2 separate regions of the Homo sapiens genome follow, and region 1 is linked to region 2. Evidence: fine-mapped expression QTL. Tissue or cell type: skeletal muscle. Region 2 holds a variant in brackets; the other region holds the start of a gene. All regions are shown on one strand. Distances are between the middles of the regions. Region 1 holds the start of TMX4 (thioredoxin related transmembrane protein 4). Region 2 overlaps TMX4 (thioredoxin related transmembrane protein 4).

Evidence for each region. PIP is the estimated chance that this variant, and not a neighbour inherited with it, causes the effect.
Region 1: TMX4 starts here. The variant in region 2 is the best candidate, but not a certain one, in a credible set for the expression of TMX4 in skeletal muscle (GTEx, PIP 0.55).

What each region holds. Positions count from the first base shown.
Region 1 is chr20:8,017,792-8,022,185 of GRCh38, reverse strand. TMX4 (thioredoxin related transmembrane protein 4) reads left to right here and starts at 2,425. Exons shown (of 8, transcript NM_021156.4): 1 at 2,425-2,748. The coding sequence starts at 2,573. TMX4-AS1 (TMX4 antisense RNA 1) reads right to left here and starts at 2,280. Exons shown (of 7, transcript NR_184034.1): 1 at 2,082-2,280; 2 at 925-1,795; 3 at 31-127. RefSeq lists silencers at 2,425-2,664, 2,775-2,914.
Region 2 is chr20:7,989,827-7,994,220 of GRCh38, reverse strand. All of the region lies in intron 5 of TMX4 (thioredoxin related transmembrane protein 4), which reads left to right. Among named protein-coding and RNA genes, the nearest start is that of TMX4, 28 kb to the left of the region's middle. The variant G/CTACAGAGTGG (reference allele first, on the strand shown) is at 2,309.

The DNA of each region.
Region 1 (4,394 bases), 28 kb before region 2:
TATACAGGAAAAAGTGTTTATTCAACTCACAGTTCCTCATGGCTGGGGAAGCCTCACAATCATGGTGGAAGGCACGGAGGAGTAAGTCATGTCTTACGCGGATGGCAGCAGGCCAAAAGAGAGACAGCTTGTGCAGGGAAATTACCATTTTTAAAACCATCAGATCTCATGAGACTTATTCACTATCACGAGAACAACATGGGAAAGACCCGCCCCCATGATTCAATTATCTCCCATGGGGTCCCTCCCACAACACGTGGGAATTAGGGGAGCTACAAAATGTGATTTGGATGGGGACACAGAGCCAAACCATATCAGTTATACAGAAGAGCAATTGGATCTGAGAAGAGACAGCAGCTCATTCTGCATGAGCTATCAGAGGTACAGTGTGGACTACATGACAGAGACTGAATGATTCACTGGACAACTGGAGAAGAGTGTTCTAATCAGAATGAAGGAGCAAGGAGACACTGAAGTACACAATGTGCTTTGGGAATGGGGAGTAGCTTTGTGTTACTAGGACACAGGGAACTCTGGGAATAGTGGAATGTAAAGTGGGCAAAACTGAAGCTGGGCTGTGAGAGGCATTGTGTATCATGCTAAGTGAAGTTAACTTTAGTATAAGAAAAATAGACATTACAGCGTATTGTTGCCTCCAAATAATAATATTAGTGTTGGCAATATTGTGGCAAAAACCACAATTATGTTTGCACCAACCTAATATGTAAGCTTTTTGAGTTAGAATATGTGCTAGGCATTATTCTTATCTCATATAATCTTCACAGCCACCTTTTGGAGCAGGTTCTATTACTACCCGCATTTTAAGAGAACTTTGGTGTGGACTAGTTTTAGCCCCAAATCACATGGCTAGGAAGTGTCAGGGCTAAGATGCCAATCATGGTCTGACAGCAACAGGTCCCTTACCCTGGTCTGTGACTCCTTACGGCAAGGTCAGTCCCATACTTCCTTGCTACTTTCTTCCTACCATCCTTAGTCTGAAGGCTAAGACTTCAGTTTTTGTTAAAGATAGGAAATGCTTTGGTAATGGCTGTCTTTCATGCTGAAGATGCTCTCTCTCCTTTTAGCTTTTCATTTTGTAAATTTTCCAACATATGCATGAGTAGGTAAAGTAGCAAAATGAACTTAGCTTCAACACTGACTGATGTTGCACCACTTTTCTTTCACCTATCTTCTTTCCATTCCCTACATTTTATTTCTGGAGCATTGTAAAACAAATTCTACACATCATTCTATCATGAAAGTGATAAAATGACAGAATTCCTGTTTATGAGTCACTTCTTTTTACAAGCACAGTAAAATGTTTTCCATTGAGTTTATGGAATTGATATGTATGTACTTAATAACAGTGAGTCTTAGTAGCATTCATTGCAAAGACATTTTCTTAAATTTCAATAGTTTGTAAACCCTTGAGTGTTTTATTTTAATGATAAGGGCTAGGTCCACATAGTTTTTAGCTAATACTAATTAATGCATAATGCAGGCCAGATCTTCTCTTCAGGCAAAATTAACTTCCCTCTCCTATAAGTATTGATTGAAATTTGCTCTCATGTGCCCTGAAGTACTTTTAGTCTTATTGCTGTCTTTGTTTTAAGCCGAGGGCAGAAACCACATCCTTTTCATGGTCTATTAACCACATTACCGAGGTTCATGGTTTGCACAACTAGTAAACACATACAAAGCACCCTTTGAGAAAGCTTCCTCATCCTTTAATTGTAATCCAGTCTTATATATTAACGGTGTGGTGGTCCCAAGGTACAGATTCATCTAATGTGACCTGGAAAGAAATTTGGAAATCACTTAAGGCTACCCTCATTTTAGATCTGACAAAACTGTAGTCAAGAGAAATGTGAGGTCCATTTTACTGCAGGTGGCAATAGTCTTAATTGACTCATTTTATCGGCTAGTACCCATGTTTTTAAGAGTTTCTATGAAATTAACATTTTTTGTAAAAAAAATGCAATTGCATAGGCTAGTTTCATCAATATCCTAAATTAGTGATGCTTCAATATACACATGCAGAGTACTTAAATTTTCCTCTCTCTTCAGCAGGAGATACTCACCACGTCCCTCCATTTTTCATTAAACATACGTGTACCTTGCAGCCCGTTGCTTTTATATTTGCTATCATTGAAGAGGGGATGGATTTTAAAATTACTGGCCATGTTTCCCTTTAGAGAAGCCCACACGCGCCAACCCTGCCCTTATTGGAGCCTGGGCAGCAGCGGTGCATGTTCTAACTTAGGCAACGTTGGGTCATCTGTTTATTGTCAGCTTGGCGGTCAGGAAGAAAGGGCGGTGGTTGCTGAGGTAACCGACACCCCGGGCAACGGCAAGTGGAGGCGGGAGGGGGCGTGGCCTCGACGGGCAAGCGGCGATAAGAGGTGGCGTCCTCCGCGGCATTGCGAGCACCGCCAGTCTGCGCCGCTAGGCGTAGGCGGGGTGGCCCTTGCGTCTCCCGCTTCCTTGAAAAACCCGGCGGGCGAGCGAGGCTGCGGGCCGGCCGCTGCCCTTCCCCACACTCCCCGCCGAGAAGCCTCGCTCGGCGCCCAACATGGCGGGTGGGCGCTGCGGCCCGCAGCTAACGGCGCTCCTGGCCGCCTGGATCGCGGCTGTGGCGGCGACGGCAGGCCCCGAGGAGGCCGCGCTGCCGCCGGAGCAGAGCCGGGTCCAGCCCATGACCGCCTCCAACTGGACGCTGGTGATGGAGGGCGAGTGGATGCTGAAATTGTGAGTGTGCCCGCCCGCCCCGGACGCCGCAGTGTCCTCGCGGGCGTCACCCTCCCAAGCCCGCGCGGCCCGGTGGCGATCCCGCATTGCCGCTTGGGCTCAACCTAAAACCCCGGACCAGGCTTGCCAACAACCTGCGGCGCCGGTGCCGGGCCGCTTGCGATCCTGCACTGCCGCTGGGCTCGACCTGGGGTCCGCGGACCCGCCTTACCAACGACCTGCGGCTGTGGGGCCCGGCCGCTCGCGCCGCGCATGCGCGCCGAGCCCTCGCGGTGACAGCCGAGGGTGCAGCGCGTCCCCTTGCTTTGGGGGACAGTGTTTTCGGGGTGGAGTGGGCAGCTTCCCATAGGGAGGAGAAGGGAAGGAAGAAAATCTGCAAGCAAACCGTGTGCTTTTAGATACAGATATGTATTGGAAGAGAAAGGACATTCAGTGACATCCACGTGCAGTATGAATACGTAGCACAGGCTAAGCAAGTTACCTGTTGAAGAAATTGCAGCACGGTGAAGGCAGGCCATTTGTGTCGTAGTCTTCCGTTTGAAGACCTGGAGATGTCATTGTGAGAATAAAACATAAATATGGATGCCTTTTAAATTTTACAGTATGATTTCAAATAAATGTTGATACTTATTATAACTTGTAAAGGTAGGACTTTCTGAGTAATATTAATAATTGTGCCATAAAGAAAAGAAGATACGCATTGCCCCTTTTAACAATAGAAAGCAAATGGTGGATAGTGCCTTTTCTTTAAGGAGATGGGAAACTACAGTTTTGAGTTAGGAGAAAGAAAGGGATTTGTTGATTATAGTTTAACCTTATAATAGGAAGTGACCATTTGAAAGAGGCTTGCAGTGGATGGTGGGCAGATGTCTGAGCGGGCTTGAGAGACCATCATGGTGGGCTTGCAGACTCTCTCTCTCTCTCTCTCTCTCTCTCTCTCTCTCTCTCTCTCTCTCCCCCTCCCTCCCTCCCTCCCTCCCTCCCTCCCCCTCTCTCTCTCTCTCCTCTCTCTCTTCTCTCTCTCTCTCTCTCCCTCCCTCCCTCCCTCTCTCTCTCTCTCCTCTCTCTCCTCTCTCTCTCTCTCTCTCCCTCCTCTCTCTCTCTCTCTCTCTCTGTCTCTCTCTCCCCTCCCACAACTCCTTTCCACCCTACCTGCCCCCCTCCCGCCCCCACCCCCCAAACATAAAATCTTTCAGGAAATTGCCACATCTCTTTAGCCTGTGGTTTCTGGCAATCTGTATACTACTATTGAATCTTTGTTTTACGTTGAGGACACAGACAGAAAATTGGATCTTTCCTTTATCCAAGACCAAGTTTTGATTCTTTCAATTTAAATTGCAAGCAGGTGCCTATGGAGTGAAAACCTCAGTGTGAGATCAGAGCCAAAATTTATGTCACACAGCAGATTACATTGCTCGAAGAACATAAGGCATATCACCCCTTCAAATGTGCATTTACCTCTTAGTCACAAAGAAGGGGATATTTTAGACCTCCAAATGAAATACCCTTGGTATCATAATAAATCAATGAAATTATTAAAGGGAACTGTAGACATGAATTATTAAAATATTCCACTTAACTATTTTTGGAAGAAGGTGAGGGGGTCATATTCTATTTGAGAAACTTTTAAAATAAGTGGAGCTGTG
Region 2 (4,394 bases):
ATATTTATAATTTCCAGATATTTCCAAAAGGAACCAAAAATGATCATTTTATAAGATAAACTAAAATTTGGCACACAAGTAATTACATTTTATAATTGTAAAATGTAGAATGCAAAATGTACAATTATATAAATGTATAATTGTAAAATAGTTTTATCTAGTATTAATACCATGTGTTTTCTTTTTTATAAGCATTTGCATGGAGTAATTTTTCTATTTTCAACCTTTTGATTATGTTTTAAATAAATCTTATAAAAAGTATATAGCAAGATATAATTCTTTTAACTGATGAATTTAATCCATTTATATTTATTGGGATCACTAAAACATTTGTCCTGATTGTAGGGTGTGTGTATGTAGGGGAATGGAAGAGAGTTGCACATAAAAGAACGCAAATGATACAGTGTTATTTTGATCTCCGTGTGTGTGTGTGTGTGTGCATTACCTTAATAATTTGTGAAATCTGATACTGCCCTCCATATCAGCATGTAGCCTCCCCAAGCCTCTTGCCAACTTTTGTGATTTATTCTTAGAAATAAGTCCCCATCCTTTCATCAGATCTGTAGGTAGGTCTCTTGCCACCTGTGTTTCTAGAATGTGGCCCTTGTCCTCTGATTTATAAGGCACACCATCTCTGACCTAAAGAGACCCAGTCCTTGGCTACCCATCAGGTCTCTGGTCCCCACTCCCACCTTTAGTTATGGTCTTGCCTTCCTGTCTTTATAGAGCCACTTACTCAGCGAGTCCTTCCAGCTGACTGCCCTGCCTGCTCAGTTAGCTCATTTAGCTGACTCTTCCTTTAGTCAGAGTTCCTCAAATCCATGTTGAATGTATAATTGTGGCAAACGTATTTGTTTTTTAACTCATGTCTAGATCATATGAAACTACAATGCAAATATATTAATAATGAACAGAAGAAACAACTGTACATGGTGAGACAGAAATAGACTAGGGATGGAAGGTGGAACCAAAAAAGTGTAAAGTCTCAGAGAAAGAAGATTATAAAGATGGAAGAAGGAAAGACGTAGAATGGCTAATGCCAGTGAGACAAGATTGTTTATGCCTATCCATAGTCTCTTTATCTTACTGAAATATCTGGATACATGTACAGATAGAAATCAGTCTTTCCTCAGCAACAGTCTTCCCTGGATGGGTAGCTGGTTAGATGTAAGTATATCTGCAGGGAAGATGACAAAACAGTATAATGGATGTTTATATGGCGTTTTTGTGTGTATATAGGAAAATGCTTAGAGATCAACAGTAGTTTTCTCTGATATGGGTGATTTTTAAAAACGTTTTTTCTATAACTTCTATTTTCTTCTGTAATGAAAAAATGAAAACAATATATTTAGATCAGAGCCTATTGAGCTAGTAATTATCTAGAAGATATCTAGAAGATCAGAGATATATCTAGAAGATCAGCGCCTACTGAATTAGTGATTCCTTAAGGGGCTTGGGTTTCTTTCTGCCTTAGAAGTGAAGCCAACTTGCTAGGTTGCACATTCTGGAGATAAAAGCTGGTCCTCAAGATTCTAGGATCACCTGGTGATGAGACACTCACATGGCCGAATTCCTATCAACTCAGGAGTTGGTTTGGTTTGCATTTGGCCTTCTTAACTTCATACCAACCTCCCCTATGTTCTTGCTTGAGTAAACTGTTGAGGTGAGAAAGTCCCTTGAATAGTCTTATGAGGCAGTTCCTGTCAGCTTCCTGCTGTTACCCTGAATCCCAGGGATCCTCGATATGTCATTCATACCACAATATGGACAAGAGTAGATGATCTCCAGTGTTCTTTCCATCACTAAATTTAAATTTTCTTTCCAATTCACTCATGATGGCGCTCACCTGCATATTTTAATTTTTATATAAACTCACAGAAGTAATTACCTCATTAGCTGTTAATATCTATCCTCACAAATAGTCTCAACATTTTACCCATCTCACAGATGGAGTCACTGAGGCCTAGGAGATGGGACAGTTAGAGGAGTTTCTCAGAGAGTTGACATCTTCAAAGGACAAAATTGATTTTGATTTTATATTATAGTAGCAATATCCAATTTCTTTAAAATTGTATGCAACTTAGTGACTAAATGAAAAATGTTAATACTCTAATGGATAGTACAAGGTGAGGTGAATATCATAAAAGCAATGTGCAGAAGATTGAACTTCAGGAAGCATCACTGCCAAGTCTGGTGGCATAGTTAGGATTAGAAGTTCTTGGGTTTTGTGTGTGGCACATGTGTGGAGAGAGACTGTCCAGTCTTCTGTCTTCCCTCTTTTCACAGTTGGCTACAGTGCTACAGAGTG[G/CTACAGAGTGG]CACTATCCTTCTCTTCCAGAAACACATCATTGTTTCACACCTTATGTGTAGGCCCCTGAATCCTATTTTTTTTTTTTCCAGCCATAGACTTGTTCCTAGAACCCTTTGAGTGCCTAGTGCAGAATCTGGTACCTAGTTAATGTGCTTGATAATTGCTTTTTGTTAGTTATATGTATTAATCATTATTGTCTTCATTATTTTACTTTTTCCTTCTCTTTATAGCCAACGTGGAATACTTTAACTTTTGTTAATTTTTTTAGCCAATGCTGATAGCAGGCTTAAAATAGGGTTCCGTGGCAGTTGCTCAGCATATAGGTTGAGCATCCCCAAATCCAAAAATCCAAAATCCAAAATGCTCCATAATCTGAAACTGTTTGAGCACCAACGTGACACTTAAAGGAAGTGCTCACTGGAGCATTTTGAATTTCCGATTTTTGGATTTGTGATGTTCACCTGGTAAGTGTAATGCAAAAATCTGAAAAAATCAGAAATCTGAAGGCTGTCTGGTCCCAAGCATTTGGAATAAGGGATACTCAACCTGTATATGCTTTTGCGAACTAAGTTTAGCATTTAAATGTATTTAAAGCATTTTTTATTGGATTTGTTGAATCTCTGCTGCTCACTGATAATATAGGATGTAACTTCCCTTTCCTAAATGTTACTGTCGTTTTGAGAGGATGTAGGCATATGGCAGATTTTAGCTAAAATAAGATGTGCTACATCCTTGGGAGGACAATCTGTGTGATGGATGCTACCTTCCCTTTTTATTAGAATGACGTGACAGAAAACTTAAGGCTTTATTTAAAATATCTGATGATGAGAATTAAAAGCCATGAACATTTAGACTAGAGAAGAACAAAGTGTATTTTAAAACTTGAAAACATTCTTCTGTGATTTACATAGCATGCCTCTTCTCAATGTTTTTTTCGTATAAAAATGTTTAGAATGTTTTGTAGAATGTTATAGTGAGACAGTGGTGCACATCTGTAAGGTACCTTTCATAGATCCTACAAGAGGCTGCAAGGTTATGTTTTGTTACAAGTGCTAAGAGCTAAAGCATGAAAGAGGTGAACCCTTGGCCATCATTGAAGAGTCTTTTCTAGCTGTTTCCTTGCAGGGAAGATATTTTGGGGATTCTGATCTGTGTCTGAAAGAGATAAAGGGCTTGTTCCAGAACTCCTCAGAGAGTATATCCTATGACACAGGTGAACTCTAAATCCAAAGGCTCTCTGTCCTTCAGGGCCAGTCTAGGTTTGAATGAGACTCTGCAACACTGGGCTGGATGAGTGGGTGTGACTAAGTAGTATTTAATCCAACCTGCAGTAGTTTAGACTTCCAGAGGGAGTGCTTGCCTTTCTGGGGAGGGAAGGCTCTACCTCAGATGCATGGAGGCCTTGGCTTGGCTGTCTTCCTTAAGTCTGTCTGACCACTGATTAGAATGCTCTTCTCATTTATTCTGTTGTAATGATGTTTTAATTTCATCTTCTCACTCAAATATGTATGTAGCCAAAAGTTAGCTCTAACTTAATCATGTACTATGATAGTATAAGGTGTCACACCCATCAGATGACATTTTAGTGCATTTTCAGTGAACAGACTAAGATTTTTTTTTTTTTTGAGGCAGAGTCTCACTGTGTCACCCAGGCTGGAGTGCAGTGGGGCGATCTCAGCTCACTGCAACCTCCGCCTACCGTGTTCAAGCAATTCTCCTGCCCCAGTCTCCCAAATAGCTGGGACTACAGGCGCCTGCCACCAAGCCCCACTAATTTTTGTATTTTTGTTAGAGACAGGGTTTCACCATATTGGCCAGGCTGGTCTCGAACTCCTGACCTCGTGATTCACCCGCCTCGGCCTTCCAAAGTGCTGGGATTACAGGTGTGAGCCACCGCGCCCAGCCCGAGTAAGATACTTTCTTATTCATCTAGTACCATAGTATAAGGTATCATGCCCATCAGTTTACATTTTTGTGCATTTTCAGCGAACAGCATGGGATATTTCCTTGTGGTAAGCACATATAATATTGAATAAGGATCAGTATTTTCCACAAGTGAAAACTGTCACTTTGCCTGGTAGTTAAAGAAACAG